4 linked regions of the Homo sapiens genome follow. The protein of the gene in region 1 binds, or shares a complex with, the protein of each later gene. Each region holds a gene or a part of one and is shown on either strand. Other genes may lie near its edges. A codon is read from its position in the direction of its gene.

The links.
Region 2: TIMM22 (region 1) and TIMM10B share a complex: the UniProt entries of both Homo sapiens proteins name them as parts of the TIM22 complex.
Region 3: TIMM22 (region 1) and TIMM29 share a complex: the UniProt entries of both Homo sapiens proteins name them as parts of the TIM22 complex.
Region 4: the proteins of TIMM22 (region 1) and TIMM9 are in contact, whole or in part, in a cryo-EM structure (PDB 7CGP), measured with the Homo sapiens proteins. Residues at the interface, in NP_037469.2 of Homo sapiens: Asp35 (codon at 5,541), Arg37 (codon at 5,547), Gln38 (codon at 5,550), Pro39 (codon at 5,553), Arg40 (codon at 5,556), Leu42 (codon at 5,562), Gly45 (codon at 5,571), Ser46 (codon at 5,574), Leu47 (codon at 5,577), Gly49 (codon at 5,583), Ile50 (codon at 5,586), Ser52 (codon at 5,592), Pro53 (codon at 5,595), Lys60 (codon at 5,616); in NP_001291414.1 of Homo sapiens: Gln13, Glu16, Phe17, Thr20, Leu57, Thr60, Gln61, Met65, Phe67, His71, Gln74, Asn75, Leu78, Lys81.

The regions. Positions count from the first base shown.
Region 1 is NC_000017.11:991,705-1,001,368, forward strand, and holds the start of TIMM22 (mitochondrial import inner membrane translocase subunit Tim22), read left to right. Parts: upstream 1-5,424; 5' UTR 5,425-5,438; coding exon 5,439-5,676; intron 5,677-7,074; coding exon 7,075-7,271; intron 7,272-7,807; coding exon 7,808-7,880; intron 7,881-9,307; coding exon 9,308-9,384; 3' UTR 9,385-9,664. UniProt on the Homo sapiens protein: Essential core component of the TIM22 complex, a complex that mediates the import and insertion of multi-pass transmembrane proteins into the mitochondrial inner membrane. In the TIM22 complex, it constitutes the voltage-activated and signal-gated channel.
Region 2 is NC_000011.10:6,476,542-6,485,792, forward strand, and holds TIMM10B (mitochondrial import inner membrane translocase subunit Tim10 B), read left to right. Parts: upstream 1-4,959; 5' UTR 4,960-4,975; coding exon 4,976-5,014; intron 5,015-5,215; coding exon 5,216-5,311; intron 5,312-5,503; coding exon 5,504-5,680; 3' UTR 5,681-8,140; downstream 8,141-9,251. Other genes in the region: ARFIP2 (arfaptin-2), read right to left, coding at 572-727, 1,177-1,351, 1,500-1,657, 2,197-2,418, 2,599-2,816, 3,431-3,527, 3,782-3,880. UniProt on the Homo sapiens protein: Component of the TIM22 complex, a complex that mediates the import and insertion of multi-pass transmembrane proteins into the mitochondrial inner membrane.
Region 3 is NC_000019.10:10,921,743-10,930,754, reverse strand, and holds TIMM29 (mitochondrial import inner membrane translocase subunit Tim29), read right to left. Parts: upstream 1,945-9,012; 5' UTR 1,933-1,944; coding exon 1,839-1,932; intron 1,742-1,838; coding exon 1,053-1,741; 3' UTR 501-1,052; downstream 1-500. Other genes in the region: protein YIPF2, read left to right, coding at 2,345-2,375, 2,796-2,956, 3,039-3,125, 4,982-5,069, 6,563-6,679, 6,756-6,922, 7,078-7,260, 7,348-7,464; histone-arginine methyltransferase CARM1, read right to left, coding at 8,998-9,012. UniProt on the Homo sapiens protein: Component of the TIM22 complex, a complex that mediates the import and insertion of multi-pass transmembrane proteins into the mitochondrial inner membrane.
Region 4 is NC_000014.9:58,407,995-58,410,531, reverse strand, and holds the end of TIMM9 (mitochondrial import inner membrane translocase subunit Tim9), read left to right. Parts: intron 1-1,363; coding exon 1,364-1,498; 3' UTR 1,499-1,949; coding exon of another isoform or gene 1,950-2,003; 3' UTR 2,004-2,037; downstream 2,038-2,537. Other genes in the region: TOMM20L (TOMM20-like protein 1), read right to left, coding at 1,950-2,003. UniProt on the Homo sapiens protein: Mitochondrial intermembrane chaperone that participates in the import and insertion of multi-pass transmembrane proteins into the mitochondrial inner membrane.

The sequences.
Region 1 (9,664 bases):
GAGTTTGAGACCAGTCTGGGCAACAGAGTAAGAACCAGTTTCTGTAAAAAAGGTTTTTAAAAGTTAGCCCGGGGCACGGTGGCTCACACCTGTAACCCCAGCACTTTAGGAGGCTGAGGTGGGAGGATTGCTTGAGCCCAGGAGTTTGAGACCAGTCTGGGCAACAGAGTAAGAACCAGTTTCTATAAAAAAGGTTTTTAAAAGTTAGCCCGGGGCACGGTGGCTCACACCTGTAATCCCAGCACTTTGGGAGGCTGAGGTGGGCGGATCACGAGGTCAGGAGATCGAGACCATCCTGGCTAACACGGTGAAACCCCGTCTCTACTAAAAACACAAAAAATTAGCTGGGCGTGGTGGCGGGCGCCTGTAGTCCCAGCTACTCGGGAGGCTGAGGCAGGAGAATGGCGTGAACCCAGGAGGCGGAGCTTGCACTGAGCCGAGATCACACCACTGCACTCCAGCCTGGGCAACAGAGCAAGACTCCATCTCAAAAAAAAAAAACATTAGCCCATTACCCCGGCATGGTGGTACATGCCCATGGTCCCAGCTACTTGGCAGGGTCGAGGTAGGAGGATCCCTTGAGCCCAGGAGATCGAGGCTGCAGTGAGCCATGATGGGGCCACTGCACTCCAGTTTGGGCCACAAAGAAAGACCCTGTCTCAAAAAGAAAAAAAGAGGCTCAGAGAAGACATTACTTCCAATTAGATTAATCAGAAAAGGTAAGTTTTGAAGGGCAGGAATATTTAAAGACAGAGCTGAGGGGCATGAGTGGAGTGTTGTGAGAAGAAAAAAGAATTACTAGCAAAAGTTCACAAGGGTCTGAGTGTGGCAGCTCACATCTGTAATCCCAGCACTTTGGGAGGCCAAGGCGGGCAGATCACTTGAGGTCAGGAGTTCAAGAGCAGCCTGGCCAACATGGTGAAACTCCGTCTCTACTAAAAATACAAAAAAATTAGCTGGGCGTGGTGGCTCACGCCTGTAGCTGGGGTCAGGAGGCTGAGGCAGGAGAATCACTTAAAGCTGGGTAATGGAGGTTGCAGTGAGCTGAGATCGCACCATTGCACACCAGCCTGGGCGACAGAGCGAGACTCCATCTCAGAAAAAAGAAAAAAAAAATGTGGTCCCCAACCAGCAGTAGCATCACCTGGGAAATCCAAAATTTCACACCCACCTCAGACCTTTCTGAGTCAGAAACTAACTCTGCGCTCAGCAGCTTAACCACCTGGTTCTCAGTGATGGTTTAGGACAGCCTCACGGACCTCCAGTAAGCCCAGCCCCTCACCAGGCCAATACTCTATGAAGATGAACAGATGATGCTATTACGTGCCCTTCACTGTGGAGACAGAAGGGAGGGACCGACGGTGCTCAGGGCTGGGCCTGGAGGACCCCATCCGGAGCCTGGAGTGCTCTTTATCACCGGCTGCCCGTGGGAACCCACGACTCACGGCTGGAGGCCCCACGCCCCCTGCCTTGTTTCCATCTGCTGCAGCCAGCGACGTCAAGCCTTATTCCATCTGTCAGACCAGGCCAGACGATAAATGTCCTCTTGTGGGGAAAGTGATTCAGAGAGAAAAGCTAAGAGCCACTCCACCCTCACATAATCCACCTCACATAATCCACCCTCACATAATCCACCCTCACATAATCCACCTCACATAATCCACCTCACATAATCCACCCTCACATAATCCACCCCTCACATAATCCACCTCACATAATCCACCCACACTCACATAATCCACCTCACATAATCCACCCTCACATAATCCACCCTCACATAATCCACCTCACATAATCCACCCTCACATAATCCACCCTCACATAATCCACCCTCACATAATCCACCTCACATAATCCACCCTCACATAATCCACCCTCACATAATCCACTCTCACATAATCCGCCTCACATAATCCACCCTCAAATAATCCACCCTCGCATAATCCACACTCACATAATCCACCTCACATAATCCACCTCGCATAATCCACCTCGCATAATCCACCCACCCTCACATAATCCACCTCGCATAATCCACCCTCACATAATCCACCCTCACATAATCCACACTCACATAATCCACCTCACATAATCCACCTCACATAATCCACCTCACATAATCCACCCTCACATAATCCACCTCACATAATCCACCCTCACATAATCCACCTCACATAATCCACCCCTCACATAATCCACCTCACATAATCCACCTCACATAATCCACCCCTCACATAACCCACCCTCACATAATCCACCTCACATAATCCGCCCTCACATAATCCACCCTCACATAATCCACCCTCACGTAATCCACCTCACATAATCCACCTCGCATAATCCACCCACCCTCACATAATCCACACTCACATAATCCACCTCACATAATCCACCTCACATAATCCACCCTCACATAATCCACCTCACATAATCCACCCTCACATAATCCACCTCACATAATCCACCCTCACATAATTCACCCTCACATAATCCACCTCACATAATCCACCCTCACATAATCCACCCTCACATAATCCACCCTCACATAATCCACCCTCACATAATCCACCCACATTCACATAATCCACCTCACATAATCCACCTCACATAATCCACCCTCACATAATCCACCCCTCACATAATCCACCCTCACATAATCCACCTCACATAATCCACCCTCACATAAGACTGTGCAGCTGTCTGGTCTCCATTTCTGCCGGGTGGGGTATTCCATCCTCATCTCGGGCAACATGTCCCAAAAGTATGGTTTCCAGTATGGCTCCTTAGGTCCCACCCATTTCTTCTCTGGGACCCCAAAGACCCAACCCCCACCTTTTTTTTCTTTTTTTTGACACGGAGTCTCCGTCTGTCTCCAGGCCGGAGTACAGTGGCACCATCTCGGCTCACTGCAAGCTCCGCCTCGTGGGTTCAAGCGATTCTGCTGCCTCAGCCTCCTGAGTAGCTGGGACTACAGGGGTGCAGCCACTATGCCTAGCTAATTTTTGTATTTTTAGCAGAGACAGGGTTTCATCATGTTGGCCAGGATGGTCTCGATCTCTTGACCTTGCTTCAGCCTCCCAAAGTGCTGAGATTACAGGTGTGAGCCACCGCGCCCAGCCAAGACCCTTAAAAGAAGGACACTTCACTTCCTCTTACAACTCAGACATACCTGTGAGGCTCCTGGGCTATGGAACACCCCAGCCCTTTCGCAGCCCTTGATGGAAATTGTTTTTCAGCCCTCTGAATAAAATGACCACTGTTTACTTAATCTTTTTTTTTTCTTTTTTTTGAGACAGGGTCTCGTTCCCTCGTCCATGCTGGAGTGCAGTGGCACGATCATGACTCACTGCAGTCTCAACTTCCCAGACTCAAGCAATTTTCCTGCCTCAGCCTCCCAAAGTGCTGGGATTACAGGTGTGAGCCACCATGCCCAGCAGAGGAATCTTTTCCGATCAACATCTTCTGAGAGTCCCTGGCCCAAGTAGGCAGATGCTTGCTACGGCACTGCCTTCAGGCCATTAGCAAAAAGTGTGCTTAAATGCCCAGAGGTGTTCCCAGGCCACGTTTTGTTCATACGAGGAGTACAAAATGATGCCAAAGTGTTAGCATTCTTGGGACTGAAAACCTCTCTCCAACATCCCCTAGGATTTTCCTGGATATGACCAGAAATCCATTCCCAATTTCTCTGCCTCCAGGCCCCAATTCTGGTTTCCTCAAAGAGGAGGAAGTGTTCTTGGTTCCCAAAATATGCTTGCAGTGCAGTGGTATAATGGTAAATGTTTAACAACAATAACAAAAAGGCCCTAACTGGCCGGGCGCAGTGACTCACGCCTGGAATCCAAGCACTTTGGGAGGCCGAGGTGGGTGGGTCACCTGAGGTCAGGAGTTTGAGACCAGCCTGGCCAACATGGTGAAACCTTGTCTCTACTAAAAATACAAAAATTAGCCGGGCATGGTGGCATGTGCCTGTAATCCCAGCTAGTCGGGAGGCTGAGGCAGGAGAATCGCTCAAACCCGGGAGGTGCAGGTTGCAGTGAGCGGAGATTGCACCACTGCACTCCAACCTGGGTGACAGAGCAAGACTCTGTCTCAAAAGAGTAATTTTAAAAAGTAAGGCAACAAATTATCAGGAGTTTTTGAGCTGGTTGTTAAGCACAGTTATTATTAAAAATTACATTCTATACATTTATAATAAATTACACTAAAAATAGGTAATATGTGCTCAAAACTCATCCCCTCCTAAAAATTTTACTACACTGTACTCCTATCTATGCTGTTGAGGTTATTTCCATAGATTGTATCTGTGTGATAGAAACACCATGTAACCACATGCTGCTGTACGTCTTCCCAATTCTGACTGATGACCTCGCTTGGTAGTTTGAAATCAGCCATGATGGGGATATTAACACCACACAAGTCAGCAAATGCTGTCAGTTAGGATTTTTTTTTTTTTTTTTTTTTTTTTGAGACGGAGTCTTGCTCTTGTCGCCCAGGCTGGAGTGCGATGGTGCGATCTTGGCTCACTGCAACCTCCACCTCCCGGGTTTAAGAGATTCTCCTGTCTCAGCCTCCCGAGTAACTGAGATTACAGGCGCCTGCCGCCACCTGGCTAATTTTTATATTTTTAGTAGAGACGGGGTTTCCTGCTTCAGCCTCCTAAGTAGCTGAGAATACAGGCGTGCACCACCATGCCCAGCTAATTTTTTTATTTTTTATTTTTTTAATTTTTAGTAGAGATGGGGTTTCACCATGTTTGTCAGACTGGTCTCGAACTCCTGACCTCGTGATCCACCGGCCTCGGCCTCCCACAGTGCTGGATGACAGGCGTGAGCCCCCGCGCCCGGTCCGTGCATTTACAGCACAAGTTCACGCTTATCTACAAAGCATCCACCTCTCACCGCACCTTCCGGGACCACGGGATTTAACGCCTCACCGCCCGATGACAGCACGAGGTGGAAAGGGCAGCGACAATGCTCGCGCGTCCCCTCCCGGCGATCCGGAGCACGGCAGCCCCGGAGCGCGCGGCCACTCCTCGCTCCCCTCAGGAGCTCGTAAGAGCCCCGCGCGGGGCCGAGGCGCGAGAGCACGCGCAACGCTTCCTGGGAAATGTAGTTGGGTGTCGGATTAGAACTACAAATCCCGGTACTCACCGCGCTGCAGCCCCGACCGTGAGGGCGCTTTCTGGTGAATCTGAATCTCGTTTGTCTGTGACATGGGGAAAGCTGTCCAAGCCCAATTCCATTTTCACAAGAGGCTTTCTTTTTGGAAACATGATAGCGGTCTCGCTGGTGTGCGCACCAGGAGCGTTGCGGCCGCGGCTTCCTCCTGCGGCGAATCTGCCGTTGCATCACAGTGGCTAGTCTCAGGGCCCGCAACGTGACGCTTGTCGAATCTGCTGCGGGGAGAAGGACGCGAGGGTTGCTTGGGCAGCGACTGTCATGGCGGCGGCCGCCCCCAATGCCGGAGGCTCGGCCCCTGAGACAGCGGGTTCCGCCGAAGCTCCGCTGCAGTACAGCCTGCTCCTGCAGTACCTGGTGGGTGACAAGCGTCAGCCCCGGCTCCTGGAGCCTGGGAGCCTGGGCGGGATCCCAAGTCCAGCCAAGAGTGAGGAGCAGAAGATGATCGAGAAGGCGATGGAAAGCTGCGCTTTCAAGGCTGCGCTGGCCTGCGTGGGAGGTGAGGCCGGGCGATGGGACCCTTGGGAGGCTGAGGGCCTGGACGGCAGTGGGGATCTCTGCCGAGAAGACCACGCGCCTGGGAGGCGAGGGACTGCGGGCCTTGACCTTGACCACACCCTCGCCTCGTTCGTGAATCGGGCGTCACCTCTCCTGCCCCCTCAGGCCGGCTTTCCTGATGAAAATTGGGTTAGAGAATCGGTGCTGTGGTTGGGGCCTGAAAGTTATTACATGACATCCTGGCTAACACGGTGAAACCCCGTCTCTACTAAAAATACAAAAAATTAGCTGGACGTGGTGGTGGGCGCCTGTAGTCCCAGCTATTCGGGAGGTTGAGGCAGGAGAATCGCTTGAACCCAGGAGGCGGAGCTTGCAGTGAGCCGAGATGTGCCACTGCTCTCCAGCCTGGGCGACAGAGCGAGACTCCGTCTCAAAAACAACAACAAAAAGTTATTACGTGGGTGACTTCATTCATCCGTTCATTCCCTTAAATTCATTCTCTTAAATAATTCTTTCAACAAATTGTTCCTAAGCAATATCACGTGCCAGGTGAAAGAGACAAGAGCCTGGTCTTCATGGGGCCTGTATTATACTATGTGGAGAAGAATGTTGAGCAGGAACACTGCAGAGGAAGGATGCAGACATATGGAAATGCACATGCAGACGACTCTAGGGCAGCAGTTGTTTGAGGTTTGAAAAACTGAAAGACCATTGTGACTAGACAGCCCCGAGCAAGGAGAGACGAAGTCTGCACTTGTCCTTCTGTTTTTCCCTTAAGTTGAAGGGGAGGTGCCCATGATTTTATTAAACTCATATTGACCATGAGGTCATGAGAGGGCATCCATCTGGACATGTCCAGCCGGCTCAGGAAGGACAGATGTGGCAGCAGTGTGGGATTTGCCATTAGGTAGCTGTGTGGCCTTGGGAGAAGTTGCTTAACCTCTCTGAGCCTCAGTTTATAGAAAGGAGAGGCTAATAGCATCTGTCTCACTGGATTATTGTGAAGAATGAATGAGGCTGTGGCATACTGGCATGTGCTCAGTAAAGCATTACTGTGAATGTCACAGTGGCCAAGAGAGTGATTTGCAAAGTTGATAGCTGAAGTTGAGGGTGGCTGGTTTACATATGAGAGAATGTAGAGAGAATAGAGGGTTAAAGATGGAATCTTGAGAAATGTTAGGGAATGACAGGAGGAAGAAATCTTAGAGACGGAGAAGATGATGTCAGTAACATAGACCCTGGATTGCAAGTCTCCAGGCAAGTGGAGAGTTTGAGTGGCAAGAGGGGGGTGTCCTCTGCACCGGTGGTCATCCAAAAGCATGGTCCCTTCCAGGATGATCCCAATAGAGTAATGCAGAAAACATGCCAAAGACACCTTCATCTCTGTGTTTGCTTCTAGGATTTGTCTTAGGAGGTGCATTTGGGGTGTTTACCGCTGGCATCGATACCAACGTGGGCTTTGACCCTAAGGATCCTTACCGTACACCGACTGCAAAAGAAGTGCTGAAAGACATGGGGCAGAGAGGAATGTCCTATGCCAAAAATTTCGCCATTGTGGGAGCCATGTTTTCTTGTACTGAGTGTTTGATAGAATCTGTAAGTGTCTCTGCCTTCTAAGAAATCCTTGCTGGGGCCACCATTTCATTACTTTTAAAGAGAAATTGCTCTTTAAAAGTCATTTGAAAGTTGTTACTAGAAAGCAAATCAGAAGCATCAGATACATTCTAGGTTGAACTTCCATAAAATAGTCCCTGTGGCAGACTTTGTGTGTGTTTACAGTATGGGCTTGCATTATTTTTTACTTTTTGTAGGCTAGAAGTTAGCTAATGATTTTAAACGAGACTTATTGGAGAGCCCCTTGAAGAAATTTTGATTACATTCCAAATGCTGGGCTTGGTTTCAGCACTCTGGTGCCACCTGCAGGAAGCATCTATGAACGCATACTATATATATATATATATATATATATATATATATATACACGCTGTATACTTAGGAACTATATTTTCAAGAAAGATTAGGTTTCCTTTGGGTAGGGACTGAATGAGCTAACGAGCAACCCTGTGTATTCCTCCTTAATGGTCTGCCTTGGCTTGTTTCTTTGGCTCTAACGTGTACTTCCCTGCCCACAGTACCGGGGAACATCAGACTGGAAGAACAGTGTCATCAGTGGCTGCATCACGGGAGGAGCTATTGGTTTCAGAGGTTAGTAAACGGCTCTCGAATGCTTTTTCTTTGTGGCCTTGGACAACGTGCTGAGGTTGTCATTTCCAAACACACGAGTGTTCCAGGGACACTTGATCTTCTTCCCTCTGACAAATAAATCATGTTTGTTTCTGTGGTAACTCGGTTTTGGAAACTTGTAGGATCTAGATGAGGGTTTCCCATCGTTGGCACTACTGACATTTCGACCAGACGAATCTTTGTCGGGATTGGGTCTGTTTTGTGCATTCTAAGACGTTGAGCAGTATCCCTGGCCTCTACCCACGAGATGCAAGTAGCACCCCCGTCCGTTGTAACAACTTTTTTTTTTTTAAAGAGACCGAATCTCACTCTGTCGCCCAGGCTGGAGTGCAGTGGCACGATGTCAGCTCACTGCAACCTCCACCTCCTGGGTTCAAGCGATTCCCCTGCCTCAGCTTCCCAGGTAGCTGGGATTACAGGCACCCGCCACCATGCTCAGCTAATTTTTATTTTTTTAGTAGAGATCAATTTCACCTGGTCTCGAACTCCTGACCTCGTGATCTGCCTGCCTCAGCCTCCCAAAGTGCTGGGATTACAGGCATGAGCCACCACGTGTGGCCAACATTTTTCTCAGTAATTCTAGACAATTGTCTTTTAATTTTAGATATAAATTATAATGGTAATATCTTTCTGCCCTTGGGGATTCTGATTTCTACCCATTGAATGCTAAGTACAGATATTCTAGAAATATTAGATTATCAGCTGCAAAAAAAAAAAAAAAAAGAAAACCAATTTGCTGCCTCTTCTCCCCGTTGGCATGTCCATTCAGAGCGTGGTGGAGGGCCTTGGTGACTTGACTTTCCTAGAAGCAGCAGTGTTTTATCACTGGGCCACTTTCCATCTGTCATGCCCTAACTTACCCAGAGCAAAAAGCCAGTTTTCTCATCTTCTGAGAGACAGGATGATTTGCTGTCATGAAACCTGGTTTTGCTCCTCAAGCACCATTTATGATGACGGACTGACTTCTCCGCCGGTCGTCCCATTGTTCAGCTTCACCAGGGCCTCTTTGAGAAGCTCTGCTGTCTCCAGTACTGCTTTGATCACCTTCCCAGGAATGTATTCCATAAACAAATCAGGGTCAAGGCCATATGCTTTCATTTGATTCCGAGGGCTGCTTCTCTCAACCAGTTTCCTGCCTGCGAGGGGCTATTTCCCTAAGACTAGAAATACCCTTTGAAGGAGAAAAGCTAAACAAATGTAGTTAGATAAAGCGCACTGGATTAGATCATATACACTGCTTCATTGATGTCTTCCAGAGCTATGATCGTTTGAATGACTTACAGTGCTTAAGCTCATTTCATGACACTGAGGGTGTGCCAACTTTCCGTGAGTGCCTCGTGACCCAGCAGCTGTCACCACAGGTCATGTTCTTTCTGTTTGTTTGACAGCTGGCTTAAAGGCTGGGGCCATTGGTTGTGGAGGTTTTGCTGCTTTCTCTGCTGCGATTGATTATTACCTCCGGTGAGAGTAATTGCCTGCAGGGAAGGATGATGCCAGCCCCGGATCCGGGCTGCTCTCTGGAGGACAGTTTCTGTACCACACCAGGGCCTTGCTTCAGGGCCTGAAGACATTCATTTTCCCTCATGTCGTTGGTATTCTGAGGGAGCTGCCTGGCTTCTCTGCCTCCAGCCTTTGGGGTAGCCACACTTTGCTGCTCCTGGACTCCAGCCAGCCTTCACAGAGGACGTCCCGTGCCAGATTCTCTCACAGCAGATCGGGAGACAGGATGTTGACATATAGGAATT
Region 2 (9,251 bases), on another chromosome or scaffold:
TAGTGCTAGATCCCAATCTTCTTGGGCTCTAAGCACAATTAAACTGGGTGGGTGGGTGAGGGTAGGCCTATTCAGATGCAAGGCCAGCAATGGGGCTCCCCATTATCCCCACCCCTTTGGTCCCAGTCCCCTTCTCTGCAATGGGCACGCATAGAGGAGAGACAAAGGGTATTAGACGCAACATCATTGGCCCAGGGGAGTCCGAGAAGAGCTGCCATTGGCTGACAGGGCATTTTCAGGCTCTGTCATTGGTCAGGGAGCACACCCCAGCCTGAAGAGTGATGCCATTGGCCAGGGAGTGGTTTTGTCATAGCCGTTGGCTGTGAAGTGGAAGGAAAAGATCTGGGAATGAAGCCCTGTGGCCAGGAAGATAGACAGGGCAGCAACTTCTGGGCCTCCAGGCCCTCTTCCCACCATAGCAATGTGGGCAAAACTGGTGTCAGGCCCCAGCCAGAAAAAGGAGCCCAAGCCAGAGGGCAAGTGACAAAGGATGTACCATGTCCAATCTCCCACACCCTGGGGCTGCCCTTCCCAATGTCTTTCTTGATAGCCAAGTTGGGCTGGGAGCAGCTCACTGCTCCTCTAGCCAGGAGGGTTTCTCAGCTCCTGGAGGCCGCAGCTTGATGTTGAACTGCTGCAGGGTCTGCTCCAGCTGTTTCTGGTTCCCAGCAAAGTAGGCGGACACAGCATTGTGGAAGAGCAGCAGCTGCTTGTGCATCACCTTGATCTGGGGGTCCAGCAGGGTCAGCTAAGGCTGGACTCAGGCGCCCTTCTTGAGGGTCTATGAGCCTGAGCCCAGGCACAGACCAGGGGCACAAGGACTCTGCTCTGATGGTGCTTTTGGGGTAGGGGCTGAACTCTACCCAGGGAGTCAAAGGAGAAGGGTCAGTATGATGGAAGAAACCTCACTGGATTTGTGGGCCTAGGGTTTTTGTACCCCAGCTCAGGGGGTGATTTTTCCCAGTTATGTTCCTGGGACCAGCAGCCAAATCCTCCAACAGGAAAGGGCCAGGAATTGGAGGGAGGGTGATCTGGAAAGGCCCAGGGGTTGAGGGGGTGAACACTCTACTCCCCAGCTAGGCTGCATTTCCTCATTCAATAATGGGGAGGGTCTGAGGGGAAGGTTAGTGTTACAGATGGAAAGGTGGGCTAGGGTCAAGGGGGTGGGGTTGGCACCTTGTTTTCTTCCAGGAACTTGAGCTTGATGGCCACATCTCCCCGCAGCTTCTCATACTTGTCCCGATGGGCCTGGAAAGTGGCCTGGGCACTCTCAAGTCGACCACGTGTCCCTGCATCCCGGGGGCCTAGACTCAGCTCCTCTAAGTCTGTTCGGTAGGCATCATATTCCAGCCTGGGGAGGGGGTGATAAAGGCTGGTCTCCACTCCTTTATCCTCAACACATACTCTCCTTTCCTTCCTGAATTCTTATGCCCCTAATGCCCAAATTTCCACCCATACCAGCCAACTCCCCAAACCCTAAGCCCTGCCAGTGCCCACACCTGGCAGCCTCATACTGTTTCACAGTCATGAGCGTGTCTTCCATGGTCTTGGTGACCAATGTGTTGATGCTAGAGACAAAGAAGTTCACGGCTCCTAGCAGCGTTTCCCCATTCTTGCATAGTAGTTTCTGTGTCTCTGCATTGTAGCCAAATTCCTCCTGAGGGCAGAAGGGAGGAACAGACCTTGAATAACACTCCCTACCTGACTGAAGCTGTAGAGCCCTTCATTCCCCTCCTCCCCGGGGAGGACACAGCCAGCAAAACTGGAACAACCAAGGACTGCCTCCAGCAAGGCTCTCTTAGCCGGAAAGTTAGTGGGATCACCCTGGGGATACCTGGGGTAGGAATGTGGGTGGTGGGCATTCTTGGGTAAGTTCACAAGACTGGAACAGTCTGAGAGCTAGTGTGGCAAGCAGGGGAGGGGCTCTGATTAGGCTGAGCACGAAGGCATTCTCCCCAGTGCAGAGAGGGGTTATTTGTGAGGCACCTAGTGTGCCCCCTCCCCCACCCCCTCCAACTTCTGGACCTCTGTACAAACCCTTAGGCTGCCTCCACAGGTGAGTGCTGCTGGGGGTAGGGCTGGGCCCACCCTGAAGGGGTTCTCCCTGTGGGCTGCAGGAGGGAGGGAGGATGAGGAATGACTGCCTGGGAGGGCCCATGCCCAGTTCCCCCACCCTCTTTGGTCTGGGTGAGGCACCTGAAGCTCTGGGGACTTCTGGCTGAGGTCAGCAAAGGCATCACCCAGTGCATGCTGGGTCTGCAGCAGGCTGTAGAGGTGGGCTGTCAGTGCCCGGCCCAGCTGCAGGACACTCTCATACTTGCGCTTCGTCTCACGCAGCAACTCAATCTGCAGCTCTAGCTCCAGGTCCACAGTCCGTGAGCCTCGACCAAATCGTTCTGATAACAGTTGCTTTGTGCACTGATTGGGAAATGGGGGAATAAATCAGAGACCCTAACAGCCTCCCCACACAACAGGTATCTACCCCAGCACCCCCCAGGCTCCTACTCTCAGCCACAGATGGGATATTACGATCACGAAGAAAAGGGAAAAAGGTACCCATAAGGAGTTTTGGGGAAGGGAGAGGTGCTTAAATCCTACCTTATAGGTGTTGATGCCCCATTTCTTGACGATGTCAAACTTTTCTCCAGCAATGCCCCGAGCCACCTCATCTCCAGGGCCAGAAGGAGTGGTGCTGTGAGATGGATGGCGGCCAGACCCTAAAGGATCAAGTTCTCTGACACCAGCCTCTCTCAGATACACCAGACACCTCTGTGGCCCCACCCATACTTCTCTTCGAGCACATGAAATTGACTTCCCTGAAGGAGATGCTAGAGACAACTGGATGCTCCTGCTTACTAGGAGGAACTCGGACTTTGCGCGGTGAGAACCAAATCCTGATATACATATGGCCTCCTTGGGGGTTAGAGGAGGGGTTTGCAGGGAGTTGTTGGTGTACAGGGGCAGAGGAAACAGAAGAAAATACACTGAGTTTGGGGGCAGCAGGAGTCAAGGATGGTGGGTCATGATAACAAGAAACCTGGTTGCATTCCCATGTGGAATCTTAGTGTGAGATTCAGGGCTGTTTGTTCCTCTAAACTTTAGAATCTAAAAATTCTGAGAAGCTTCACAAAGTTCCAACTCAGCCTCAAGCTGTAGAGGGGGGGCATTCCTGTGAAGCAGGTCTTAACTTGACTCAGGTGGTGGCAGGGAAAGGACAAATGAGCCATTTCAGGGGCTAAGTGGCAAAAGGGAAATGGATGGACAACGCTGGGAGTTGCTTTTGGGCTGAGGAGAGTCCATGAGGTTCCTACAAGCAGAAGTTCCCAAGATCTCCAGACATAATTCAAGCTTTCCTAGACATATCCTATGCTTCCCCAAACCATTCCTGTCCCCTCCTCCACCCAAGATTCCTGTTTCTGAACATTCATACCTGTGGGGATGAGTCCATCACCAGAGCCCCCATAGCCACCAGACACAATGCTGGTTTCATTGAGGTTGGGTCCTGACACCATCACCTGCTGGAGGTCCTATAGGCCAGAGAAGAGGGGTTGCTTCAGGAACATAGGGGCTGCAGAAGCATTTTGGAGGTGGGAACAAGTTTGGATTCAAGCATCATAAAGATAGTACACAAGGGAAGTCTGCACAGAATCAAAATGATACGTAAAAAGAATGAAGGGAGTCAGATAAGTCAGGGGAAGGCTACTGGAATGGAGGGTGAGAACCTAGGATTTATAAATTGGATTCCTAAATTGAAACAATTAGAAGAATCAAACAGAAGCACCTGCTCCAGCCCATCATCTTCAGGAAGCTGCCTGGCTTCGCCGTTCCCGTGGATAGGGATCTCCATTGTGGCTGCCTTCCCTAGGATCCCGTCCGTCATGGCTAGGAAAGGTATTGGAGTAAAACTCTCCACCCCAGCACCCTGCAAAGCCCAACACAGAAGTTCTGGACACTGGCCAGCACTCTAGAAGAAGGAGGCCTCCTCTGTCATTTCTTTAAAGGCTGTCCCAGGGTTTGAGTGTCCCAGCGTTTGGCCATCATTCCTTTCTTCAGATATATGTATTTCTCCCCTCCAAAACGCACATTTGAAACAGGCACACCAAAGCACGGTGTCTTCTCACAAGCCCCCAACCTCACCAGGACTCTGGTGATTATTTCTACACTCATTCAGCAGACATTTAGTGAGTGCCTACTATGTGTCAGGCACTATTTGTGACAATGAAAATACAACAGTGAAGAGGGAAAGTCTGCTCTCTTAGAACTTATCTCCATGCAGGCGTGTTTATGCTGAGGAGATGAACCCTTTCCAGGGCTCAGGTCTTCACCCCCCTATTCAGGTTTGTTCTCCATTGCTTGGCCTTTCACATTCCTTTAGCGTTTCTTCCCCCTTCCTTCAGGGGGTCTCCCCTCCTCCGTCTCATACACCTCGTCTTCCTCGGGCCCTCCCCACCAGGCCTTAGTTAGATCAGTGGGTGTATGTTCCCAGTCTCTGGTAAAAGCCTCTCTCTCCCAGGATATCGGTGACCCTTCCACAGTCAGTTATGTCTCCCAGGTGTGTGAGTCCCCGCCCCCACCCCCATACACCTGGACATCAGGTGTGTCCTCATCCTTCCCCGGGGCTCGGGGCATCTTGCCCTCTGGACAGGTTTGTGCGTTCAACTTCCCGTCGCCCAAGCATGTTCCTCTCACCTCGGGCCGGGCCGCTCTTCCCCTCAGGGCGCCAGGCCCGGGCCGCGCGGGGACCTCGGGCTCCAGTTCCCGTCGCGATCCTAGCAGCAGGTCAGGGACTCGGCGGAAATGACGTCCTCTCCGGGCAGAAGAAGCCGGCCACGTCGCAGATTATAAGGGCGGAGCTGACGTCGCAGCCAGGGCAGGGCGATACTCGAGCTAGCTCTCGAGATCAGCGAGAGGTTACTTCCGGGGCGGCACCGAGAAGCTGAAACGGAAGTGGCGTACGGCATGCGCCGGTGGCGTGATGGAGCGGCAGCAGCAGCAGCAACAGCAACTGCGAAACGTAAGTGAGAACTAAGTCGTTTCGAGGCCAGACGTTCAGCTCGCATTCCTGCACACATCGCGGGAACCCCACAGGGCCAGGGATTTGAGGGCTGGAAACTTCGGGCTATGGCGCGCGGGCCTGGGAAACTTTGGGCGGCGCGACCTTGACTAGAAGTGTGGGGCCCTTATCGCTGAGTTTGTGGTCCCCCTTTTCTCTCAGCTGCGTGACTTCCTGTTGGTCTACAATCGGATGACAGAACTCTGCTTCCAGCGCTGTGTGCCCAGCTTGCACCACCGAGCTCTGGACGCTGAGGAGGTGGGGAACTGTGTAGGGAGGTTACGCTGCAAGAAGAGTTTAGCGGTAGACTGCTTCCCTCCTCACCCCACTTCCCGTACCTCTGGCCCTGGCCTTCCCACGACCCTCACCCCTAGGCTGGGCATGGGGAAGAAAGGAGGCGGACCCGACAGGGCACCTTTATCCTCCACTTAAACCCTATCTTCCTTCTAGGAGGCCTGTCTGCACAGCTGTGCTGGGAAGCTGATCCATTCCAACCACCGCCTCATGGCCGCTTACGTGCAGCTCATGCCTGCCCTGGTACAGCGCCGCATCGCAGACTACGAGGCTGCCTCGGCTGTGCCAGGCGTTGCTGCTGAACAGCCTGGGGTCTCTCCATCAGGCAGCTAGCCATACCCAACCCCAGGAAGGAAGGCCTTGGATGGACCCTCAGATTGAAGGACCCGGTGGACCTTGGGGTTGGTGAATCCTAAACAGAGAGAATTCGAGGTTGCCTGAAAGCTGGGTGTCCTTGCTCCTTTTCCTGGAGCCAATATACCCAGTTTTTACTCAGTTTGATTTATATTCTGGGCAAGGAAGCTTTGCCTACTTTATTGGCACAATCCGTTGTTCTGTCGTTTAGTGCATATCTGCTGGCTTCAGCCCTGGCAGCTGAGAAATTGTTTTCTATATGTAGAAGGAAAACCTGAGCATTTGCAGGCATCTGGTTAAAGCAGGGTCTGTGTGTACAATTTTAAAACGGGTAATATGTCATGCTCTTAGTTCATCTTCACAACAAAACTATGAGTAAGCGGTATTAGCCTCACTTAACAGATGAGGAAGCAAGATTCCAGAAAGTACCAGAAGGTCATTTTATACAACAGGAGATTGGTTCCTGCCCAGATGACAGAAAATGGGAGCTCTGTCTAGTTGTCCTTAAGTCTGACTGACTTCAGTGGCTCATAACCGTGAGCCAAGTATTTGTTGGTTCATAACTGTTGTTTTGTGAACTATGTCTTACATGTCTAGAGTTCTGCTGGATCTAGGGAAAGGAGGAGCTATCGAAGTACAACGGATCAAAAAACCACAGGGCTTTTGGGCACTGCCTCCTTGGGAAGTTAGTGGCCACAGAAGAGAGATGAAACCTGTAAGAAGTCTGGAGTCTTTTGGAACTTCAGCCATTTCCCCAGGTTGTTACTTTCTTAGTATGTACAGTCTTCTCAGGATGAGCAGTAAAACCTTTGAACAAAGGTCTGTGTGGTTGTCTTCACGGGCAATCAGGAAGGGAGAGAGCTGGGGACCATATTCTGCAATGCAGCCAAATCCGAGGAAGAGAAACTGAAGGGAGAAGTAGATGGCAATGGTTATGATAAAAAGGGATAAAACTAAATCTTCGGGACTTCTTTAATGCTACGTTAATGTTTCACTGCTCGTCTAGAAACTCCTAAATCCAGCTTTCTATCATCTGCCCCACATTGGTCCCATTGAGTACATTCTGTGATTTCTAATTCCAGCCTCTCCATTCTTTTCTCATTATTGCCTCCCCCGCCCCCCAACTTTGTGTAATTTACTTCTGTATTCAGCAGCCTGGATAGCATATCATTCCATCACCCCATTTTCTTGCCACCATTGGCCATCTTTTTGTATCATTCCACTTATTCTGTCTTTTCCATTCCTTCATTCAAACTGCTAGAGAAAAACAGTTGTGTAATGAATGCCACTAAATATTCAAGGCCTCCAACCTCAGCCAAGTCCTCACACCAACACGCAGTCACACCAACACACACCTTTATGGGTTCCTGGTCCATTTCCTTCTCTAATTACCATGGCAGTTATTTTACACCTCTACTGCTGTCCTTAATCCCATACCCCACCCTCATCAGGTGACCCTGTTTCCTTTTTTAGAGAAATTGAAGCTCTTAGACATTGGTTTCCACAGTAATAATTTTAAAACTTCTTACAACTACCTACAAAGCAGATGTTCTATCCTATCTACAGAGCAGAAAATTGAAATTCTCAAGTAGCAGACCCGGTATTAAAGTGCAGATCTGACTTTAAAGTCCATGTTCATTTTACACAGCAGGCTGCCTCTTAAGATAGTATTTATTGAGCACACACTTTGTGTAGGTTCTGATTTTGGTAGATGTCATGCTTTATATTAATCTTTACAACAACTATAAGTAAGAGGTATTAACCTCACTTAACAGATGAGGAAGCAAGAATCCAGAATGTGCCAGAAGGCACATTCTGCAGATTTCGTGCAAACATTTATACACAGCTTCTTTTTTTTTTTTTTGAGACAGAGTCTCGCTCTGTCACCCAGGCTGGAGTGCAGTGGAGCGATCTAGGCTCACTGCAACCTCCGCCACCCGGGTTCAAGCAGTTCTCCTGCCTCAGCCTCTCGAGTAGCTGGGATTACAGGCATGCGCCACCACGCCCAGCTAATTTTGTTTTTGTATTTTAAGTAGAGACGGGGTTTCACTGTATTGGTCAGGCTGGTCTTGAACTCCTGACCTTGTGATCCGCCCGCCTCGGCCTCCAAAAGTGCTGGGATTACAGGTGTGAGCCACCACGGCCGGCCTATACAAAGTTTCTTATTGAGAAAAGTGGTTCCAATCATGTTTTTTGCCCCCTTTAGCTGCTATCTCTTGAACAGAAAAGTTTGTTAGGAAGGTAAAAGTTGCTGACTAGGACCTTACCCACAGGGTGGCACTCTGTCCTTGGGAAATATAAATGCAAGTAAAACAGGTTTGAACTTCTTAACTTCCAGAAGATAGGAGGATGGGACCTGTGATACTGTGCTGCTGGTGGGAGGACCCTTCCACATCAACATTTGTGTGTATCCTTGCAATAAACTTCCATTGTGAATTATCTGTGCTTCCCGTCCTTCCATGTCACACAATAGTAATTGCTAAAGAAGAGCTAGGAGCATAGATCTGTCTGATTCTAAAGCCTTTGCTCTTTGAACTTTGAGAGCTTCTATCTGTACTTAACCTGCCTCTAGGCATGAAAAAACAAATGTCCCTCAGTCTGACCCATCTCTTAATCCCTTTCTTAAAATTTCAATCTCTTGTCCTGGTTCTTTCCTGTTTATAAATATGTTCAGTGTTCAGGAGAAAAACCTTATTCCTACCACTTTACCTTCCATAATCTGGTCTTCCTCAGGTTTTACCATAAAGTGATAGCCATTGGCATAATCGGAGCAATGTGATGTTCCAAGCACAACACTAAAGAATAAATGTTGACAAGCTTTATCATGTTATCATAAATGTAAACGTTGGAGATACTTTGTTGTTCCTGCCATTGTGGCTTCAGAACTGCCCACTCCTTTGCAAAGCCTCATTCTTTTGAGGCTGTTCATCCATACAACCCTCTGATTACTTGTCTACCACTCTCATTTACTACTACTCTCCTGCTACTTTAAATAGCTAGCCCTTGGTCTTCCTGTCCACTCCTTGATATTTTAACATTTACATAGACAATTCATTTGGTGTTTTGTCTCCTAGTTATTTGGCCCAATCTCTGATGATTTCCACTCTGTCTTGGCCACTCACTCCGTTTGTCATATCTTGGCCATTATCATCACCTCAAATTGCTCCATCTTCAAAATACTTGCATCTTATTTATTGACCATATTCCTTCCACTTGGTTTATTGAACTATTCCCTCTATCATTCTCTGATTTCACTGCAGCCAATGCTTCTGCTTTCCATTAGTCCCTTCCTTCTTTAGATTCCTGTATAGCTTAAACTAGTGGTTTTCGTGCAATAGGCTGAATTTCCTTGCCTTTCATCTCTTTTTGAACCCTTAAATAAAGTGATACTTGTCTGTACCTGCATTTGGACAGCTAAATGCCACCCCAGGAAACAACTGTGGAGCAGATTTATATCACTATGAATCCATGGTTATCAGCTTCAAATGTAGTCTCAGCCCCATAGTCCTACTAGATTTTTCTAGTCATTTTAACTTTTCCCTGCAATGAC
Region 3 (9,012 bases), on another chromosome or scaffold:
CTGGTGTTGAACTCCTAAGCTCAAATGATTTGCCTGCTTTACCCTTCCAAATATTTTAGTTTTTGAGAAAGCTCTCACTATTTTACCTAAACTGGTCTTGAACTCCTGATCTCAAGCAATCCTCCTACCTCAGCCTTCCAAAGAGCTGGGAATGGCAAAAATGTTACTTATCAAAATGAAAGGCCAGGTGTGGTGGTTCACTCCTATAATCCCAGCACTTTGGAAATGCGAGGCAGGTGGATCACCTGAGGTCAGGAGTTCAAGACCAGCCTGGCCAATATGGTGAAACCCCATCTCTATTAAAAATACAACAATTTGCCAGGCATGTTGGCACAGGCCTGTAATCCCAGCTACTGAGGAGGCTGAGGCAGGAGAATCACTTGAACCTGGGAGGCAGAGGTTGCAGTGAGCCGAGATTGCACCACTGCACTCCAGCAGGCAAAACAGAGCAAGACCCTGTCTCAAAAAAAAAAAAAAAAAAAACGAGAGAGAATAGGTCATAGAATAAAAACATTTCAGCTCAAATTTTATTTAGTTAATTACTATTATTATTCTTTTTTGTAGCATCGGAGTCTTGCTATGTCACTCTAGCTGGCCTCAAACTCCTGGCCTCAAGCGATTCTCTTGCCTCAGTTTGCAAACTGCTGGGATTACAGACATCACCATGCCAGGCCACAACCCAAACTTGAAAAAGAAAATCTAAGTGGCCTTAGAAGAGTTTGCAAGTCAGCTGACCAATGTGGTACCTCCTTAAGGAGGGCCTCTGAGGCCCGATGAAAAAGGCTTATATAAAAGGCTCATGACCAGCTCTGCCAGTGATGAACATGTGTCAAGTCGTTCTGCTGTCCCCAACTCCCGGACCCAGGTGGCTCTGAATTAGCTTCAGCTAATAAAGAACAAAGACGGGGGGCAGAAAGGCTCCCCAAACTTGTGCAAATCCAGTGAGAAAACACTTTGCACATCATCTGTCTCAGCTGTTCTGCAGGTGAGGCACACTCAGAACTGCACCACCCCAGGCAAGCAGTTTGCCAGGACTCGGGGGCCTCAGGGTTTCATCTCGGGGCCTCCGCCTGCACCAGCGAGTGGGCCTGGCTCAGGGCGAGCCTGTCCTTCTTCTCCTTCTGCAAGACCTGCTCCTCCCACAGCGCCTGGTCCACCTGATCGTCGGTGAGCACGACAGGCTTGTACTTCTCATCGAAGAGCCGCTCGTTGGTCTCGGAATGCAGCTGCTGGGGCCCGACCACCCGCAAATGCGCCGGCAGGTGCAGGAATTCGTCGTCGTTGATGTCGCAGTCGCGCATCCAGGCCCCCAGCACCCACCAGCGACCCACGAAGCCCACGTCCAGGACCCGGCCGGGGAAGTCGGTCCAGCGGGGCTGCAGGTAGCGGCAACGCGCCTGGTAGAGGCTGGCCTGGGCGTCGAAGGGCGCCTCGTACACCAGCGAGCAGAGCCCCAGGTTGACGTAGCGCAGGCGGCCACGGCCCCGCAGCCAGAGCAGCCTCTGCACGAAGGCTTCGGACTCGCGGTTGCGGGTGGCCGGCGCCAGCAGCAGGAGGGTCCCCGACGCCTCCAGCAGCGCCTCCTCGAAGGCACCCTCGCTGGGCGCCAGCGTGAAGCAGGCCGCCGCGCCGCCCAGCAGACCCACATACACAGCGGCGCGCCCCGGCCGGGCCCTAGCCTCCGCCGAAGCGTCCCTGCAGGCCTCGGCGTAGTCCCGGAGCAGCGCGCGGGCCCAGGACCCTGAGGGGAGAGGAGCGCGGTAAGAGTGATCCGGCCGCGGCGGCCACCCACCCTGTCGCGGCGGCCACCCACCCTGCCGCCTTCCGCCGCTACTCACCCAGCCGCGCCCACACTCCCGGCTTCGCCACTACCGCGTCGCCCGCCTCTGCGCGGCGCCGGGACCAAAATCTCCTCAGAGCCGCCGCGGCCATCCTCTTCCGTCTTGGGGGTCCTTGCTCCGGGAAGAAACTCCTGATACCCGACGTTAAGAGCCCGGGAGTCTCTTCTGCGCAAGCGCCAACTTTACCGGAAGTGGCTTCCCAACGGGAGAGGATAGAAAGAGGACAGGCGCCGGATGTTGCTGTCAGGTCTGAGTCGGTTGGAGTCTGACGGGTAGGCGAGACGCGCAGGCGCAGAGAGCCCCAGCCACGCCGGCCCAGGTGGCCTCAGGTGAGGGGGGGCGGAGCGCACCTGTGGGGACGGGACGACGAGTTCAAGCCTCCGTGGGTGCAGTTGGTCGCCAGGTAGGGCTGGGGGCCGAGGGACCGGCTCGGGGGCGGGGGGGAAGTGTGCCTGACCGGTCTCTGTCCTCAGCGAGGGATGCGGAGACGCCCCTGAACGACCATGGCATCGGCCGACGAGCTGACCTTCCATGGTGAGTGCGGCCCCGACGTGGCCGGATCTCCCACTCCCGCCCCGGGCCAGAACCTCCCCCCGATACGGCTTCCAATTTCTCTACCCCGAAGCCTAGGCGGCTGTGAACCCTGACCCAGGAGTGAGACCCATCTCTGACTCGAACCCCGCCCCCGCCCTGAACTCAGACCTCAAACCCGAGCCTCTCGTCCCCAGACCCTGACCCCATCCCAGCGTCAACCCTAAGTTGCAGTTCCACTTTAGGAGGAAGGGAACAGATGTCCTCCGGATGCCTCCAAACTGAGGAAGTTGGGCCCCACCTTGGGGGAGATCAATGGCTCAGCAGAGCCTCCGCCCCCAGATGAGCATCGGTTTAGCTTGGGCCCAGTCGAGTTCTTTCCACCCCTCAAACGTGCGTGTGTCCCATATACCTCCTCCACAGAATTCGAGGAGGCCACTAATCTTCTGGCTGACACCCCAGATGCAGCCACCACCAGCAGAAGCGATCAGCTGACCCCACAAGGGCACGTGGCTGTGGCCGTGGGCTCAGGTGGCAGCTATGGAGCCGAGGATGAGGTGGAGGAGGAGAGTGACAAGGCCGCGGTGAGTCCCTGTGTCCTGCCTCCTTGCAGCCCCCAGCTGACCCAGGCTCTCCGGGCAGGCACTGAATGCCCGCAATGTGCAGCTCCTGCAGGAGCAGCAGCAGCAGCAGCAGCCGGGATTCTGGACCTTCAGCTACTATCAGAGCTTCTTTGACGTGGACACCTCACAGGTCAGGCTGGGGAGGCAGGTGGGATGGGGCTCAGAGTTATGCTCAGGGTTCAGCCACTCTTCCCCTGGGCAGGGTGCTGGTGATGGTGGGTGCTGGTGAACGAACTGTGGTGCTCTCAAAGGGTTATGGTGGGACTGGTTATGGATCGGGACTATGGGAACACAGGGGACACACACAATCTGGTGGGTTAGAGAAAGGCCTCCTGGGGGAGGTGAGGAATTGGCTGAGACCTAAAGGAGACAGAAGGCTTCCCTGGGGAATAGGGTAGGGAAGCAGGAGTATATGTTCCAGGCACAGGGAACAGCATATGCAGAAGACCAAAGATGGACTGGGCGCAGTGGCTCCTGCCTGTAATCCCAGCACTTAAGGGGGCCGAGGTGGGCAGATAACCTGAGGAGTTCAAGACCAGCCTGGCTAACATGGGGAAACCCCGTCTCTACCAAAAATACAAAAACTGCCGGGTGCGGGGTGGCTCATGCCTGTAATCCCAGCACTTTGAGAGGCCTGGGTGGGTGGATCACCTGAGGTCAGGAGTTTGAGACCAGCCTGGCCAAACATGGTGAAACCCCGTCTCTACTAAAAATACAACAAAATTAGCCGGGCTTTGTGGTGGGCGCCTGTAATCCCAGCTACTCTGGAGGCTGAGGCAGGAGAATCGCTTGAATCCGCCAGGCGGAGGTTGCAGTGAGCCAAGATCGTGCCAGTGCACTCCAGCCTGGGCAAAAAGAATGAGACTCTGTCTCAAAAATAAAATAAGATAAATAAAATAAAATTAAATAAAAAATAAAATAAAATAGAAAAATTAGCCAAGTGCAGTGGTCGGCGCCTGTAATCCTAGCACTTTGGGATGCCGAGGCGGTGGATCACTTGAGGTCAGGAGTTGGAGACCAGCCTGGCCAACGCGGTGAAACCCCATCTCTACTAAAAATACAAAAATTAGCCAGGCATGGTGGCACACACCTGTAGTCCCAGCTACTCAGGAGTCTGAGGCTCGAGAATCACTTGAACCTGGGAGGCGGAGGTGGTAGTGAGCCAAGATCGTGCCACTGCACTCCAGCCTGAACAGAGTGAGACTCTGTCTCAAAAAGAAAAAGGGGGTGCTGAGGCCGGGTGCGGTGGCTCACGCCTGTAATCCCAGCACTTTGGGAGGCCAAGGTGGGAGGATCATGAGGTCAGGAGATCGAGACCATCCTGGCTAACACGGTGAAACCCCATCTCTACTAAAAATACAAAAAATTAGCCGGGGGTGGTGGTGGGCGCCTGTAGTCCCTGCTCTTTGGGAGGCTGAGGCAGGAGAATGGTGTGAACCCAGGAGGCGGAGCTTGCAGTGAGCCGAGATGGCACCACTGCACTCCAGCCTGGGTGACAGAGCGAGACTCCGTCTCAAAACAAAAAAAAAAAGAGGGAAAAAAAAGAGGGGGCTGGGAACGGTGGCTCACGCCTGTAATCCCAGTACTTTGGGAGGCCGAGGTGGGTGGATTACCTGAGGTCAGGAGTTCGAGACCAGCCTGGCCAACATGGTGAAATCCCGTCTCTATTAAAAATACAACTATTAGCCAGGCGTGGTGGCACACGCCTGTAATCCCAGCTACTCGGGTGGCTGAGGTAGGAGAATTGCTTGAGCTCGGGAGGCAGAGGTTGCAGTGAGCCGAGATCATGCCACTACTCCATCCAGCCTGGCCGACAGAGCAAGACTCTGTCTCAAAAAAAAAAAAAAAAAAAAAGAGAGGGAAAGGCTGAGTTCTTTCAGGTGGGGCATGGAAAGAGAAGGGTGGAGGTCAGCAGGGAAGGAGCCTCTCAGGACAAGGGAGAAGCTCCTGGCAGACTTCCATCCTTGACCTTGGCCTTGCCCCCAGGTCCTGGACCGGATCAAAGGCTCACTGCTGCCCCGGCCTGGCCACAACTTTGTGCGGCACCATCTGCGGAATCGGCCGGATCTGTATGGTGAGTGAGGTTGTGCATTTGGTTCCTTGATGGATCACTCAACAAGTGTGGCCTGAGTTGCAGATGCCAGTGTATAGCTGCGGACAAATCAGTCACTCAGACAGTGTGACTTACCTGCTGTTCAGGGAGACAGAGACATGAAGGACTGCAGAGGGTGGCGGGTAGAGAGCAGCAGAGCAGACAGGAGGAGTGGCCCTGCAGTTCTGCAGGGTGCAGCAGGGCAGGCCTCCCTGAGGAGGGTGAGGGAATGAGCCTTGTTGGCAACAGGAGGGGTGGGGGAGACCTAGGAAAAGAGGCTTCCAGAAACGACGTAAGCTTCATGGCAGGAACTTGCATGAACTGCAGGGCGGCATTACCACTGGAGCGAGTGAGCTGCAGGGAGGTCACAGGCGAGGGGACAGATCACACAAGCCTCCCATGCTGTGGCAAGAAGAGATCTTTTTTTTTTTTTTTTGAGACAGAGTCTCACTCTGTCACCCAGGCTGGAGTGCAGTGATGTGATCTCAGCTCACTGCAATCTTCCCCTCCCGCATTCAAGCGATTCTCCTGCTTCAGCCTCCTGAGTGGCTGGGATTACAGGCACGTGCCACCATGCCCGGCTGATTTTTATATTTTTATTAGGGACGGAGTTTCACCGTGTTAGCCAGGCTGGTCTCAAACTCCTGACCTCAGGTGATCCACCCGCCTCGGCCTCCTAAGTGCTGGAATTACAGGTGTGAGTCACTGTTATCTGGCCGAGAATGGATCTTTAAGTGTTTTCGGGGTCCCTCTCGCCATCATGAGTGGCGAGGGCGGAAGCCAGGAGGCTGGGGTGGAGGCGGCCACATGGTGGGGACTGTGGATGTGGAGAGTGGCACTGGATTCTGGAACGTGCTGGGGAAGTAGAAGAGACTGGCTTTGTGGCTAGATAGGTGGGGGTGGGGGGAGTGGGAGGTTAGGAGCGGAGGCAGGCTCTAGGGATTTCTGCCTGGACTAACGGGATGGATAGAGTTGCCACGTATCCACGGGACCAGCTTGGCAGTGAGGGCAGAGGGCAAGGGTGTGGATGAAGCCGGAGATGCCCACCCGGGAGCTTGAACTGGAGCCTGCAGTGCTCAGGGCAGAGCCCTGGGCTCTAGAGGAGGCATAAGGCCCTGGGCTTGAAGGAGGTCATACTATGGGTGAACGCAGACATGGAAGGGGCCAAGAACTGGGCCTGGCTGCTCCCCATGGCTGAAGGGGTCAGAGAGTCAAAGAGGAGGTGACAGGGGTTGAGGAATTGGCACCAATGAGGTGAGACACAGGCCAAGGGTGTGCAGTCCTGAGTGTTTCGGGGAGGGGGATGAACTGACAGCCAGCACTGGGCTCAGCCACCAGGAGGCCCCCGGTGTCCTGGTGAGTCAGGCAAGGTGCTTAGGAAGAGGCTGGGGTCTCAGCACAGCTCAGTCAGGATACATGTCTGCTTGTCCTGGGAGTGCAGGGCCCGGGACCCTGACTGTGCCCCCTACCCCCAGGCCCCTTCTGGATCTGTGCCACGTTGGCCTTTGTCCTGGCCGTCACTGGCAACCTGACGCTGGTGCTGGCCCAGAGGAGGGACCCCTCCATCCACTACAGCCCCCAGTTCCACAAGGGTAAGCAGACGGGCAGGCCCAATGCCTGGCAGGGCCCTGGGGTACAGGGGGTGACTGCTCACCTTGCCCCCCCCAGTGACCGTGGCAGGCATCAGCATCTACTGCTATGCGTGGCTGGTGCCCCTGGCCCTGTGGGGCTTCCTGCGGTGGCGCAAGGGTGTCCAGGAGCGCATGGGGCCCTACACCTTCCTGGAGACTGTGTGCATCTACGGCTACTCCCTCTTTGTCTTCATCCCCATGGTGGTGAGTGTGGCCTGGCGCGGAGTGGGTGGTGGCTGTGTGGGGACACTGGCATGGTCACCTGCCGCCTCATTCCCATGGTGGTGAGGGTGGCCTGGTGCAGAGTGGGTGGTGGCTGGGGGGACTGGCATGGTCACCTGCCGCCGTGTTGCTCCCAGGTCCTGTGGCTCATCCCTGTGCCTTGGCTGCAGTGGCTCTTTGGGGCGCTGGCCCTGGGCCTGTCAGCCGCCGGGCTGGTATTCACCCTCTGGCCCGTGGTCCGTGAGGACACCAGGCTGGTGGCCACAGTGCTGCTGTCCGTGGTCGTGCTGCTCCACGCCCTCCTGGCCATGGGCTGTAAGGTACGGGTCTGGGGTGGCCACAGGTGGGGCCGAGGGGCTAGGGGGGCATGGGCTGGCCCTGCCTCTGACCCCAGGGGTCTTGTGCAGTTGTACTTCTTCCAGTCGCTGCCTCCGGAGAACGTGGCTCCTCCACCCCAAATCACATCTCTGCCCTCAAACATCGCGCTGTCCCCTACCTTGCCGCAGTCCCTGGCCCCCTCCTAGGAAGGCCCGGGTCCCACAGGTAAGGACTATTCCCAGCTGGGCTAAGGGGGCTGCCCTCCCACTCCCAGTCAAGGCGAGAGGTTCTGGGGCCACTCCCAGACAATTCTTTCTTTCAGGCAACACCTAAGTGGACCAACCCCTCTGCCTGTCCTGCCCCCCAGACGATGACTGAAGGCTCCTTTGACACCTTGAGATGATTCTGCTACTTTCCAGACTTTTCTTACAAAGCAAACACTTTTATTTTCTATGCAAAGGTGATTCAGAGAATTTATATAAAGGCGGGCGAGGGGCAGCCGAGCAGGGAGCTTTGGGACAGGGCTGGGGCCCCCATATCCCCCCCGGGCCACCTGCTTTCCCTCCTATGGCTCCCCTGGAACAGGAGGGAGAGCCAAGGGGGCGGCCCAGCCTGGACAGCGCCCGCTCCTGCCTGGGTGCACACACGGCGGGCCTGAGCTCCAGCATCTGAGTTTGGGGGTATGAGAAACAGGGGAGCAGAAGGAGAAGAAAACTGCCTGTGCTGCAACACGTTTCCTCATTTATTTTTTCTTTCTTTTTCTTTTTTTCTTTTTTTGGAGGGAGAGGTCCCTGCAAGGTCCCTTCCCGGGCAGGGGAGGGATGGAAATGCCGTCACAGTAGTAGGGACTGGAGCGTCTACAAGGATGGAGGGGAGCTACTCAGGCCTAACGTTAGCTACAAGGAAAAAGGACGCCTTCCGTGACAGATCCTTGAGGTGTCTGTGTCTGCCCCAAGTGGCCGGCAGTGGCCTTCCCTCCGGGCCCAAGGCCTGCAGCCACCTGCTCTAACTCTTGAGTGGGGGGGCGGGGGGGGACCTGCAGGGGCTCGGGGACAGGACAGCAGCAAGAGGCAGGGGCCGAGGACGGAGGCCTTCCCGACAGTGGGGTGGGTTGTACATTCAAGTGTGAGGTGAACCCTTTGGTGGGGAGGGGGCCCCTGAAGCCTCGGCGGGGCCACCCCTCCCCGCGGCGCCTCTGAGTCTAGGGAGAGGGGCTGCTGGCTCGGCCCGGCCGGCCTGGCTTCACAGAGGGTCTGCGGATTGACACTGGTTCTTTTCATAAAAAAATAAAATTAAAAAAAGCAGCATGTCACGTCCGTTGTGACCGAGGCCTGGTCGTCGAAGGGGAGGCCCCGCCTGGCCAGGCTACCTTCCCACTGGAGACAGGCAGGGGGACAGGTGCTAAGGGACCTGGCAGGCAGGGCTGGCAGGCCCCATGGCGCCTGTTCCAGCAGATGACAAGCCCAGGTCAGGGTAGAGCGGGCAGGAGGGGGGACGAGGGCTCCCACAACATGATTTTGTGTAAAATATGGCAGCGACACACGCTCAGGGCCGGGAGGTGGGGGTTAGGGTGGGGACGGCGGCAACATCGTGTAAAAAAGTGTCCCAGTTCCCATAGCAAAGAGAGCTGTGACCGGGTGTTCGAGCTTCTCCAGTACAAGGGGGAAAGCCGCCCGGCGGGGGCGGCGGGCAGGGACATCATTTGGTTTCCTGGTGCTGTCAGTCCGCGGGGCGGGCCCCTAGCTCCCGTAGTG
Region 4 (2,537 bases), on another chromosome or scaffold:
CACAGCCTTTCTGTATGGCCCTGGGAATTCTGGTTGGCTTTGGAAAAAACAAAGCTTGACTTTGGTGGCTCATATTGAAAACCTCATCCTATTAGAAGTCTTAACTATTTTTTTAAGACAGGGTCTCGCTCTGTTACCCAGGCTGGAGTGCAATGGCATAATCATAGCTCACTGTAACTTTGAACTCCCAGCACATTGGGAGGTCAAGGCAGGTGGATCACTTGAGCCCAGGAGTTCGAAACCAGCCTCGGCAACATGGTGAAACCCTGTCTTTACAAAAAATACAAAAAAAAATTAGCTAGACATGTTGGTACATGCCTGTGGTCCCAGCTACTCGGGAGCTGAGGTGAGAGGGTCACCTGAGCCCGGGAGGCAGAGGTTGCAGTGAGCTGTGATTGCACCACTGCACTCTAGCCTGGGCGACAGAGCAAGACCCTGTCAACAACAACAACAACAAAAAGCACCAGCCCTCATCTCTACTAAAAAATAAAATGAAAAATTAGCCAGGCGTGGTGGTGTGTGCCTGTAGTCTCAGCTACTCCAGGGGCTGAGGTAGGAGGATCACTTAAGCCCAGGAGGTTGAGGCCACAGTGAGGCACTGCACTCCACCCTGGGCAACAGAGAGAGAACCTGTCTCAAAAAAATAAATAAATAGGCTGGGCGCGGTGGCTCACGCCTGGAACTTCAGCACATTGGGAGGCTGAGGCAGGCGGATCACGAGGTCAGGAGATCAAGACCATCCTGGCTAACACAGTGAAACCCCGTCTCTACTAAAAATACAAAAAATTAGCCAGGCATGGTGGCAGGCACCTGTAGTCCCAGCTACTCGGGATGCTGAGGCAGGAGAATGGCGTGAACTCAGGAGGCGGAGCTTGCAGTGAGCCGAGATCACGCCACTGCACTCAAGCCTGGGTGACACAGCGAGACTCCCTCTCAAAAATAAATAAATAAATAAATAAAATTAAAATAAGTAAAAGGTTGAGAATTAAGAATGTTGTTTTCTCATTAAAAAGGAACAAACTTACTACTGGGTCTACATTTTAATAATCGAAACAAGAAGACAGGAATGTGGGCTTTCACTTAATACACTTGCAGAAAATCTAGTCCAGAAGCTTTTTGAAAACAGAGACTTATCATTGCTCTTAGTGACTACAAACTGGCAGGCATTCAATATATATTAATGCTTGTCAGTGAATGAAAGTATCAATTAAAAGCTATGGTCAGTTGCTGCCAATTAGTACTATTTAATTCTCAGATATATTCAAAGAAAAGCAAACTACCCCACTGATTCTTTTAGAATACATGCATTTTAAAAAATTCATATTTTTGTGTTGCCTCTTGGATCTTCCCTTTTCATTCCTAGACCACCTGTTCAGAACATTGCTTACAGAAATATTTAAAAATGACACAAAGAATATCCATGAGATTTCAGGAATATCATATTCAGCAGAATGAAGCCCTGGCAGCCAAAGCAGGACTCCTTGGCCAACCACGATAGAGAAGTCCTGATGGATGAACTTTTGATGAAAGATTGCCAACAGCTGCTTTATTGGAAATGAGGACTCATCTGATAGAATCCCCTGAAAGCAGTAGCCACCATGTTCAACCATCTGTCATGACTGTTTGGCAAATGGAAACCGCTGGAGAAACAAAATTGCTATTTACCAGGAATAATCACAATAGAAGGTCTTATTGTTCAGTGAAATAATAAGATGCAACATTTGTTGAGGCCTTATGATTCAGCAGCTTGGTCACTTGATTAGAAAAATAAACCATTGTTTCTTCAATTGTGACTGTTAATTTTAAAGCAACTTATGTGTTCGATCATGTATGAGATAGAAAAATTTTTATTACTCAAAGTAAAATAAATGGAAATATCACTGAGCAGTTGTTTATACTGTATGGTACCATAGTATTCTCACTGGACTGTGGATACGTTGAAATGTTTTTCAATCAGGATCATCCTCCAAGCAGTCCTGTTCATTCATGTCTGCCTCAAATTGCTGGTGAATACATAAAATAGTTACTTGCTAATCATTTCAATGCATGATCCTTTTCTTGCCTCCCTTGTGTCAGGGTGGGCATTACATATACTTTTCTTTTTTTTTTTTTTTGAGACGGAGTTTTGCTTTCGTCACCCAGGATGGAGTGCAACGGCACAATCTCAGCTCACTGCAACCTCCACCTCCCCAGTTCAAGCAATTCTGCTGCTTCAGCCTCCCAAGTAGCTGGGATTACAGGTGTGTGCCACCATGCCCGGCTAACTTTTGTATTTTTAGTAGAAATGGGGTTTCACCACATTGGCCAGGCTGGTCTCGAACTTCTGACCTCAGGTGATCCGCCTGCCTCAGCCTCCCAAAGTGCTAGGATTACAGGCGTGAGCCACCGCGCCTGGCCACATATCTTACCTACATTTTCGTATATCTTCAGGAAACAATCCCATCTGCCCTAGTTTGGGAATGTTTAAGAGTTGACTGTTATACTGTAATGGAGTTCATGTTTGTGTTTTGTTCAAAAGCTGACAGTCAAATATGATA